3 linked regions of the Homo sapiens genome follow. The protein of the gene in region 1 interacts with the protein of each later gene in a biochemical or structural test. Each region holds a gene or a part of one and is shown on either strand. Other genes may lie near its edges.

Region 1 (3,500 bases):
TGTGGACAAAGGTGCCTTCTTCCTTTCTCCCCACCTACTGCCAAGCAGGACTTTGTCCTCCCTGTCGCTTTCTCTGGCCCTCACACCTGGAAGACCATTGCCCATCACCCCCTTCCCATCACCCAACTTGAAGTGAGGGACCCAAAACTGTCCCTACCAGACCAACAGATATCCGCAGGAGTGTAAAGCATCAAGAGCCAAAGTCACAGCACCACTGTCACGTGCACCAGCCACAGACACAATACCACCAACACCAGACATAAATACTCAATGCTAATACACTAGCTGGTCTGTACTGTCATCAGCAACACAGTGGCCTGCAGGGTGACTTGTTCAGATCTCAGGGTGCCCTGAAGTCCGGCCCTCAGCCCCACTTCCTCATGTTTGCTCAGGGACCCTCTCCCTAGAGAGACATAATGAGGGACAGTCCACCCGGCTCTGTGGCCTGCTGGCACAAGCCAGGGCATAAACACACTTGTGAATCAAACATGTTCCACCCTGAGAAACTAGAGGGGGCCGAAATGGCCTCAACATCCCTTTTCCTCAAACTTCCTAAAGAAAAAAATGCTGTGCCAGTCCGGGCAACGTAGGGAGACCCTGTCTCTATAAGAAATACAAAAATTGGCCAGGCACAGTAGCTCACGCCTGGAATCCCAGCACTTTGGGAAGCCAAGGCGGGCGGATCACGAGGTCAGGAGTTTGAGACCAGCCTGACTAACATGGTGAAAGCCCATCTCTACTAAAAATACAAAAATTAGCTGGGCATGGTGGCGTGCATCTGTAGTACCAGCTACTCGGGAGGCTGAGGCAGGAGAGTTGCTTAAGCCTGGGAGGCGGAGCTTGCGGTGAGCTGAGATCATGCCATTGCACTCCAGCCTGGGTGACAGAGCAAGATTCCGTCTCAAAAAGAAAAAGAAAAAAGAAATTAAAAAATTAGCTGGGCGTGGTGGTGCGCGCTTGTGGTCCCAGCTCCTCAGGAGGCTGAGGCGGGAGGATCACCTGAGCCTGAGAGGTCAAGGCTGCAGTGAGCTAGGATCATACCACTGCACATCAGCTTGGGTGACAGTGTGAGATCCTGTCTCAAAAGAAAAAAAAAAGAAAAAATACTATTGCTTATGAACCAGATGTGTGTGGAAGATTTTAGGAGACTCCAGCTAAGCTGAGTTTGCTGGCCCAGAGATTGTGGATCCTGTTCATGAAGACAGATGAGGAGGCAGGGCTGGAGGGGCCCTGAAGAGCGACTCATCCACTCCCTTCATTTGTGGCTGAGAGGATGCTGCCTGCCCAGGGTCTCACAGAAATCCTAGGACGCCTAAGGAATATGCAGGACTGACCAAAGAGTTGAGAGAGGGTATAAGGAAGGGAGGGAAGGAGGAGCCTCAGATGAAGAGGACCACACCCTCCCTCTTGCACCTGCCCTTCCTGGACCACACCTGTGCAGCCAGCTGGGCTCCCAGGGGTGGGGGTGAAGAGCCTTCCCTAGAGCTCATTACCTTTCCTCCACACCGTGAGAAGAAGCTAGTCCAGCATGCAGTCCACTCTGCAGTTACCTGGCCTTGGAGAGTGAGAAACTTGCTGGAAAACTAAGGGACATCCCAGCAGAGAGCCTGGCCTCAGTTTCCCTTTCCTAAAATAAAGAGATTAGCTTCAGATTCATGGTTTTCAATTACTCTTAAAGGCAAAGCTACCCTTCAAATTAAATGTTTAGCAGAACTGTAACCAAGTCAAGCTGATCGAGAGGTACAGCAAGGTGCTGCTCTGACGGAAGGGAAATGTGAGCAGGAGGTGGGCTTAAGTGCATCCAGGGGACCCTTAGGAGTCAGTCGCACTATGCACAGTGACGGATATCAGACTGGCTCCATACCTGTGACCCTTCCAGCTCTAGCACCATGTCCAACTGTGCTGTGGCTGCTTAGTGCTGAGGGGAGGAGGAGGGAGTCAGGCAGTGGAAGCCAGACTTTCTCCATCCCCAGCGCCCTGATAAGAGGCAGCCCTTTCCCTTGTATATTTCCTCAGGCCAGCTCCTAGCACTGGGTGCCTCCAGGGAGCCCAGGATGGGGCTAGAAGCACAAAAGGATTTGTTCCTTAATGAGGAGGCATCTGTAGTCAGCAGAGCCATTAGTCCCCACCCCAGGTCCCTGGGGGACTGGGAACTCCTATCCAGCTGGAGTGAAGAGGAGGCTGGCAGCTCCCCATCTTCGAAGGAGCAGGGCCTGGGGGATGTAGACAGCTGACCCGGGAGCCTGGGTGCCCTCTCCACTCCCTGGGCTCATGGCATCCAGTTGCCTTCCTGGAGGTGGAGGGCTAGAGGCAGTAGAGGGGCTCCAGCAGCACCTCGGCCCCCTCCCCCAAGTCCCTGGGCTTACTTACCTCCCTTGGCCAAACACAGCCTTTGGCCTGAGGCCGGGAAGGCCCACCTCCCAGTGCTCCCTGGGGATCCTCTCACCAAGCCTGATGGGAACACCAGCTGGGACACTTGCCCCCACCTCCCACCCCCAGGGCCCCAAGGTACTGTTTATAAGGGCTGTACCTACGTGGGGATGTGTGTGATTGATTACCTGCACAGAACCAGAGGTACACACCCGCCGCAGCAGTGGACGGATTCCCGTCCAGACACAGACACTCAGACCACATACACGGAGACACAGCCCCGCACACATGTACAAAGAGGCGCACACACCCATCAGACACACTCCCAGGAGGCCCTCAAAGACGAGGAGGCAGGGCGGTGATTTTTATGCATGTTTATATTTAATGAACCACATGCAAATGAGATGGAGAACACGCCACAAAGGAGCCAGCCCCCAGAGACTCTGGGTGGAAGGGCACAAAGGCTCGCCTTTTGGGCTGCCCTGGAGGCCAGATCAGGCTGGTGGATTGAGGGGGCCTGAGATGGGGGATGGGGGCCACGGGGAGGGTGGCCTGCCCACACCAGGGAGCCAGGAGCAGGAGCCAGGACGAGCTCCAGTGTCCCTGCTGCTGTGGGGGAGGGCTTCCTCTGGGAGGGGAGCGACTGTCCCAGTTGATGGAGTGCCTGAGACGAGGGGCTGCCTGCCTGGACAGATGGTGTACCGCCTTCCTGCACTTGAAGCAAAGTGGATTTTAATGAAATCGCAGCCCTGGTGCTGAAGCTGGGAACCCGAGTGGGAGGGGCTCCTTCCCCAGGCATTACAGGGTGGGGTTTGGGCATGGGTGGAAACGGGGGTGGGCAGAAACACTTAACCAGCCTGTAACTGGGAGGGGAGGGTGCACCACAGCCCCTCTGCACTGATGATCTCTGCAGACCAGAGTTCAAGCAGTTAGTTCAGATCCCCAAAAGGTGGGGAGGGGTCCCTGAATATTTATGACACATTGAAATGTAGATTGGTAGGTCTGACAGTCTTCTGAGAGGCTTGTCACCTTGGATGGATGCAACACCCTCTTGGGGTGCATCGAGAGACTGCAGATGAACTGGGGGTGGGAGGAGTAGGAGAAGGAGGGACCAAAAAAAAGCTCCCGGG
Region 2 (3,724 bases), on another chromosome or scaffold:
GAAGTTGTCCAACACATAAGCTGAAGTCGTCATATTGGCCCACCACCAGAATGAACAAGTCCAGGCTACAACACAGGATCATGGACTCATCAGTAGTATGAAACTTCCTCTTTGACCCAGTAATATTTTTACAACTATATTAAAAATAGAGAAGTGGACAAAGATTTCTACTCAAGAATGCTCACCACAGGGTTATTGATAATAGCAAAGTAAGGGACAAAGAGGAATGGGGGCATGACTAAACTGAGCCATATTCACATAAAAGATATCCTGGAAGCATGTTTAAAAAATGTTTTCGTCCGAGTGCTGTGGCTCACACCCGTAATCCCAGCACTTTGGGAGGCCGAAGCAGGAAGATTGCTTGAGCCCAGGAGTTCGAGACGAGCCTGGGCAACAAAGCGAGACCCTGTCGCTACAATAATAATAATAATAATTATGCAGGTGTGGTGGCGTATGCCTGTAGCCCCAGCTACTTGGGAAGCTGAGATGGGAGGATCACTTGAGCCCAAGAGTTCCAGGCTGCAGTGAGATGTGGTCGCACCACTGCACTCCAGCCTGGGTGACAGATCAAGAATCTGTCTCTTAAAAAAAAAAAAATTAATGCTTTCCAAGAGTAAATATTCATGTGGAAGAATGCCCATTATACGCTGTTTAGTGAAAAGGGCTTAAAAACGACATACTGCAACACTTCATTATTGTTGCATGCATATCTGCAGATGTGCAGAGAAATACTGGAATGGAGAATTAGCCAGACTTTAACCATGTCTGTCCCTCTGTGTGAGATCACAGGTGGTTTGGGGGGTTTGTTGTTGTTTTGTTTTAACATAATACCTTTCCATATTTTCCAAATTCCTTATAATAATCCTGAGTTGTTCTTATAACCAGAGGAGTGGGAAACCCACAGTAAACTGCTTTTTGAAACTAAAATGCTTTCTGGCCCTGAGCACACCTCTCCAGGCATCCCTGCCTCACCCAGGCCCCCGTGGCCTCTTTGACTGTTGACTTCACTTTAAGCAGATGCCCAGGCCCTAGGTCTTCCACCGGGCCCACCGCCCGCCCCTGTGATGGAGCTCCCTACCAGCACCAGGGCGATGCAGTCCTCTGTGGTGGAGGCCGAGGAGCAGGTCACGCTGCCTTCGCTCAAGCCACTCCACTGGTTACACTTGCGCAGCTCCTGCTCGCCCACCGCACACCACACGACCCGCGCACGCCGGGCAGCCACTTCCTCCTCACCTGCCAGAGGGAAGACCGCAGGTGGCTGGGCAACCTGAGCTTTGCCAGGTTGTCCAACCTCCCCAGAGCCAGGGTCCTGCCCAGACTCTCCCTGGAACAGGAGCTACAGTACATGTGTGGACATGTGGACCCATACCCTCTCCTCCTCCACTTCTCAGCTCCAAGCCCCTTCTTCAGGTCCACAGAGCTCCCTGTGTTTCCCACTTCTGTTCCTTTGGAGAAGTTCCCTGGCTTCTAATCTATCCATTAATCTTTAGAGTCAGGAGGCGCCTATTGTCTCTGTCTCTGAGGATAAACGCTCCATGACCCAGAGACCAGTGACAGTCCCAAGAGATGGCCTAGGGGACCTTGAGCCCAACCCTGACTTCCCCTAACGCCTGCAATCACCACCAATAACTACGGTGCAGCCTCTGGGTTCCCCCAGACTCCCACCCCCAGCCCCCCAGTAGAGAAGGAGCCATAGCTGAGTTCCCCCACCATGGTGTCCCCAACTAAGTTCAAGGTCTGGGCCTGGGAAGTGTGGGTAAATCCAGGCCCCCGGATTCATCCAGGAGGGGTCCTGGCTATCTTTGTTCATGTTCATGTTTCTCACTTAATAGGAGGCAAACTGATTTTTCTGCCAGGCCTGGGGAGCCTGACGTGCACTGATCAGGTGGCCAGACTATTCTTTTAGAGACACCTGACCTAATCCACAGAAGACACTCACACCTGCATCAAACCTCCACGATGACCCCACAGTGTCTGGGAAAAGGAGTGACCGCCACAAAGTAGGGCCACCTGCTGGGAAGTAGAAGACCACACCAGGCGGACCTCAGGACCCTCCTGGGCTCACTCACTTTTCCTCAAGTTCTGGATGGCAGTGAAGTAGCCGGAGCCAAGGTACAGCCCAGAATCTATCCTCGGGGGCACCCTCGAAAACCCAATGGCAGAGTCCTTGAACAGCAGATCTTTCTGCCCACTAGGGGAGCCAAAGAGCTGGAATTTCGGTGACTTGTCCTTTCCAAACTTTTCCTAATTAAGAAAAAATAGAATTATGGTGTCAATGGTAAATAGGGAGGAAACAAAAAAATGATGTTAAAAAAGAGTATCTGGAGCTTTGGGATCATTCTAACTGAGAGCAGGAGCCTCGGTTGAGACCCTCCTGCAGAGGGACTTGTGCCATCTCGGAGACCCAAGCTCAGCTATGGCTCATTCTTTGAAGAGTTGCTGAGGTCCAAGCACCTTAGGGCCCTGAGAAGATTGCATCGACCACCCCCTGCTTCTGCTCCCATCATAAGACGCTGTCAGCCCGTGTGACAGAAGAGTTTCATTGCTTCTGCTGTCCACAGTACAGCCTGGGCAAGCAGCCCAATGCATTAGTGTGCTATCCTGCAGCAAAGCTACAGGACTTCTGGAGTGGCAGAAGTCAGGGAAGTAAGAAACCTTGCTCCCTGCCCCCCATATCCAAGCAAGTGGGGAGGACCGTGGGTGAAGATACCTGTGCCTGGCGGAGAAGATTCCAGATGGCATCCTCCTTGCCATTCACACTTCGTGCCACAACGGCATGAGAAGGGACCCGGGCCAGATGGCAGTCTTTGAACTTGTCCACTGGCTTCCGAGTGTTGTCTGGGCAGAGTAACTCATACTCGTCCCTTTCAGCCTCGTCTGACAGGTCCTCTGCAGGGAAGGTGAGGTGGGAGGGAGTCTAGATAAGCCGACTCCAGCAGTAACCTCGAGCTATAGTTCCCCTTCTCCCTATAGAATTTTGAGCTTGGGGAGATAGCTGACAAAACTGAGGGTCAGAAAGGCAGGGGTTTGCTCCAGAACACTCAGAAAGGTAAAGGTAGTGCCCCAAAAGCCTCAGGGGGCAGCCGAGGTGTGATCCTCATCCTAAATCACTTAGGCCACCCTGGGGTTCCCGTGCAGCTGCTGCCTGGCAGGCCAGAGAGGCCAAACCAGACCCGTCTGTTTCTGCGGCATCTCTGCCTGGAAAAGTCACTTTGCAGAGACAAGCTCAGGGGGCCACCAAGGGTTGCTCCCTTACTCACATCTCTGGGAAGAATAAAAATGACAAAAATGTTAACAAGGCAGGGAATAAGGCAGGAAGGTGAGACACTTTCCAACACTGAGTATATCAAAAGAAGGGGAAGAATGGTTTTATGAATGAGTTCAGGCAAATGTGGAATATCATATATAAGTTGCTTCAGAATGTGTAAAGTGAAAAAAATCTTGCCCGAGTCATTTTATGAGATTAGTACAACCTTGATGTCAAAATCAGAAAAAGTATAGGAGGGAAGAATTAAAAGTTTATTTTACTTACGAACATAAATGCAAAATTTGTAAATAACGTACTAACTAACTCAATCTCACAGAGTATTTAAAAAGCTAATAGATTGGAATGAAGGTTTACCAGTGTATTCCATTAACAAAAGAATGGCTGAACATCAAAAAAACTAAAGTAATCTGCATTTAATGGCAGAAAACCATGAGATCGTCTTCATCTTAATAGATG
Region 3 (3,724 bases), on another chromosome or scaffold:
ACAGACTGTGAGTCAGAGCAGGGCTGTTCTGCTTCAATATTCATGATAAAATCACCCCTCCTGACTCCTTGGGTACCCAAGCACCTAGATTTCATGGAATGAGGCCTCGGGAAGTATTTATTATGTTGTTCACAGTGTGTGAAGGGCCCTTATACATGCCTCTGAGGAGCCTGGGGAAGCAGTTTTCAGGCTTAAATTCTGCCCTTTCCTCCTATGCCCTGAAATGCCCCAAACTGCCACATAATGAGAGTGATCCTTTGATCCGCACACATGTATGGAAGACTCACATATGAATAATTCTTACTGTTGGAAATTGCTTTTGCATCCTTTTTTTTTTTTTTTTTTTTTGAGACAGGGTCTCACTGTATCTCCCAGGTGGAATACAATGGCTTGATCACAGCCCACTGTGATCCTGGGCTCAAGGAATCCTCCTGCCTCAGCCTCCCAAGTAGCTGGGACTATAGGCACATACCATCATGCCCAGCTGATTTTTAGAATTTTTTGTAGAGACAGGATCTTACTGTGTTTCCCAGGCTGTTCTTGAACTCCTGGCCTCAAGCACTCCTCCCACCTCAGCCTCCCAAAGTGCTGAAATTACAGACATGAGATACCATCCCTGGGCTGCACCCATCTTTTTACATGATTTTTACAAGTGTCCTGGGGAGGTCTCCTTCCCATTTGATAGAAGGGAAAGCTGAGGCACATGGAAGGAAATTCCCTGGAGCCACCTGGCTGGTCCCAGCTGTGAAAGGGCTCCAGTGTAGGTTTGCCTGGCTGTTTTGTTTTGTTTTGTTTTGAGACAGAGTCTCACTCTGTCACCCAGGCTGGAGTGCAGTGGTGTGATCTTGGCTCACTGCAAGCTCCACCTCCTGGGTTCACGCCATTCTCCTGCCTCAGCCTCCAGAGTAGCTGGGACTACAGGCGCCCACCACCACGCCTGGCTAATTTTGTTTTTTGTACTTTTAGTAGAGACGGGGTTTCACTGTGTTAGTCAGGATGGTCTTGATCTCCTACCTCATGATCTGCCCGCCTCGGCCTCCCAAAGTGCTGGGATTACAGGCGTGCGCCACCATGCCTGGCCTGCCTCGCTATTTTCAGATGGGCGCTGCACAGCTAGCCGCTAGCAACCTGATCAGTAAGGTGCTGTGCACCCGCCAGCCTTGAATCTTGGGGGTTTCTCAATCTGGGTCCACCTTCCTGTTTTTCCCAAGGTTTGTCACTTGTCCCTCTATTTAGCACTGGGCTATAGCTCCTGAGAGAAGCCTTGAAGGATGGGGAGAGAATCCCAATGCTAGCAAGGGGGAGGCACAGCATGAACTGAGGCTCAGAGGTGGGAGCCCTTTGGTGGGTGTGCAAGTGGGCCCATAGGGCCGAGGCCTGGTAGGATGGTTGGGAAAGGAGATGACACCCCAGAGTAGTTTGGGGTAGGCCACTGCAAGCCTTGGGTGCAAGGCCGAAGGGGGAAGCTTCATTCTGCACTTTGGGAGGCTGAGGTGGAAGGATTGCTTGAGGCCAGGAGTTCAAGGATAGCCTGGGCAACGCAGCAAGATCCCATCTCTACAAAAAATTCTAAAAACTAGCTGGACATGATGGCATGTGCCTGTAGTCCCAGCTACTTGGGAGGCTGAGGCAGGAGGATTTCTTGAGCCCAGGAGTTCGAGGCTACAGTGAGCTATGATCATGCCACTGTACTCCGCCTAGGAGACAGAGTGAGACCCTGTCTAAAAAGAAGAAGAAGAAGGAGGAGGAGGAGGAGGAGGAGGAGGAGGGGGAGGAGGAGAAGGAAGAAGAAGGATGCAAAAGCAATTTCCAACAGTAAGAATTATTCATACGTGGGTCTTCGATACATTCTGAATTATTGGTTCAGCTTCTCACTGGTAAGGTGGTATGGCCTTAGTATTATGATGATTATTATTGCTCTCATTACTTTAAAGGCTGGATAGTTCAGTGTGTGCACCCTATTTGTTAGCATTGGGAGAGGGTTGGGGTCCTACGGACAGCAAGTTAATGTCATGTTTCAAATGATAAATTAGATAGGAACAGGGTCCCGGCCAGCACCCGCCAGGGCATTGAGCCCTGGCAGCTTCGGTGAGCTCCTGAGACCCTGAATCTTAGAAAATTCACCTTGGTTGAAATTCCAGCTCCACTTAGAAACCTAGGTCTGTGCTAGTGTGTGTTACCAGGTAACCAGGAGAGGCAGCGCATGCCACTTCGTGAGAGGGACAAAGAAGGGGGTTTGTGCTCAAAACCCTTTCATGCTGAGGGAGGAGATCTGAGGCAGAGGCTGCAGGGAGCAGGATTAAGCTGTTTCTTGTTCCACATCATAACGTGACTATTAGCATAAATTATCAGGGCTGTTCAGTGTGTTGATTATTAAAATCTTTGGTTATGTGCTTTTTAATACAAGCAGATGGGGTCCTGGGGAATGACTTGATATCCTTTCTTTCCCTAGCACCATTAACTTTAAAGAAATCTCAGAGGGATTTGGGAAGATTTTTTCATTCCAGCCATCAATGATCGATATAATTGACGAGGTAGGGGGACAAATCACCACACACTATAATAATAATATTGATCCCTTTCATTTGTACAGATCCACACAGTTAATAACACAGTCACATCCATTTTCTCCCTTCACCCCAAGGATGCGAGGCTGCGGTCATCATCTTCATTTGCAGATAAAAAGGAAATGATTAGCAACTTGCCCAAGCTCAAGTGGTTGGCAGCGAGACCCCTGGGCATTTGAGTCTCCCTCTGGTACTGTTTTTGCTCACCCCACAGTACTGCCTCCTGTGACCATGTGCATCTGGGTGACTGTCTTACCTGCTGGTTAGCCCTTGGATGGTTGGATTTGTGCAATTCTAGGGCTATTGCTGGCACAAGCAGAAGGAAACAAGTATCAGCAAGGAAGAGCTATAGGGGGATGAAGCTTCCACATTCACAGACTGGGCTAGCTAGAAGCCATCCTCCCTCCTGCAAGCCACATCATTCTTGTGAAAGGCAGGCAGAAAGGAAAGCCCTGGTTCCTCTGGCAGTGTGGCGGCTCTGGCAACAGTAAGAGTATGTGCTTGGCTCCCCAGAGTGAGGGCTGTAGTCATGGTCCCTGGTGCCTCTCACCCAAGGCCAGAGGAGGCTCTCATGCATGCAGGGAGCTTTAGAGGAGATGCCTAAGGACAGCACACCCTGCCTGAGTCCTCAAGTCCCTCTGCAGAGGTCTTTTACAGTTTGTAAGGGGTCTTGCAATTGTTCCTCACAACAGCCTTTGAGGAGTGGGCTGGGAAGGGAATAGATTCCTGTGCCCATTTTAAAGAAGAAGACACTGAGGCCAAGACTGGGACGTGGCAGAGAAAGGATTTGAACCTGGACTCTTCCACCCCTGCCTGCCACGCTGTCCTTCCTGCCTGTGGTGGCAGCCATGACGTTGAGCACTCCAGTGCCATGCTGGAATGAGCCCTTGGGGATAGTAGGGACTAGAAATGTCCTGCTGGTGTCAAGGACACATTGCTCATGTTATGGGTTATCTTCATAAGAGCTGTTCCCTGGGGGTGATGTTTGGGGTGTTTCATTGTTGTATAGAAAACAGCTAACACGGCAGGCCTGCGACCATATCCTCAGAAAGGCCTGCTGGCAAGGTTGGCCTTGGGCTGGTATCTGGGGACTTAGATTTCAGGGGGGTTCCACTCTTCTCAGAATTGATGAGAGTGGCTCACTGTGCCTGAACTGT

Evidence for each region.
Region 2: the proteins of IGDCC3 (region 1) and LTF interact in a biophysical measurement, tested with the Homo sapiens proteins (one large-scale study listed by IntAct).
Region 3: the proteins of IGDCC3 (region 1) and IGFBPL1 interact in a biophysical measurement, tested with the Homo sapiens proteins (one large-scale study listed by IntAct).

What each region holds. Positions count from the first base shown.
Region 1 is NC_000015.10:65,336,503-65,340,002, reverse strand, and holds part of IGDCC3 (immunoglobulin superfamily DCC subclass member 3 precursor), read left to right. Parts: intron 1-3,500.
Region 2 is NC_000003.12:46,447,785-46,451,508, forward strand, and holds part of LTF (lactotransferrin isoform 1 preproprotein), read right to left. Parts: intron 2,890-3,724; coding exon 2,711-2,889; intron 2,245-2,710; coding exon 2,070-2,244; intron 1,234-2,069; coding exon 1,079-1,233; intron 1-1,078. UniProt on the Homo sapiens protein: Transferrins are iron binding transport proteins which can bind two Fe(3+) ions in association with the binding of an anion, usually bicarbonate. Lactoferricin binds to the bacterial surface and is crucial for the bactericidal functions.
Region 3 is NC_000009.12:38,417,909-38,421,632, reverse strand, and holds part of IGFBPL1 (insulin-like growth factor-binding protein-like 1 precursor), read left to right. Parts: intron 1-2,452; coding exon of another isoform or gene 2,453-2,517; exon of another isoform or gene 2,518-2,534; intron 2,535-3,724. UniProt on the Homo sapiens protein: IGF-binding proteins prolong the half-life of IGFs and have been shown to either inhibit or stimulate the growth promoting effects of the IGFs in cell culture. They alter the interaction of IGFs with their cell surface receptors.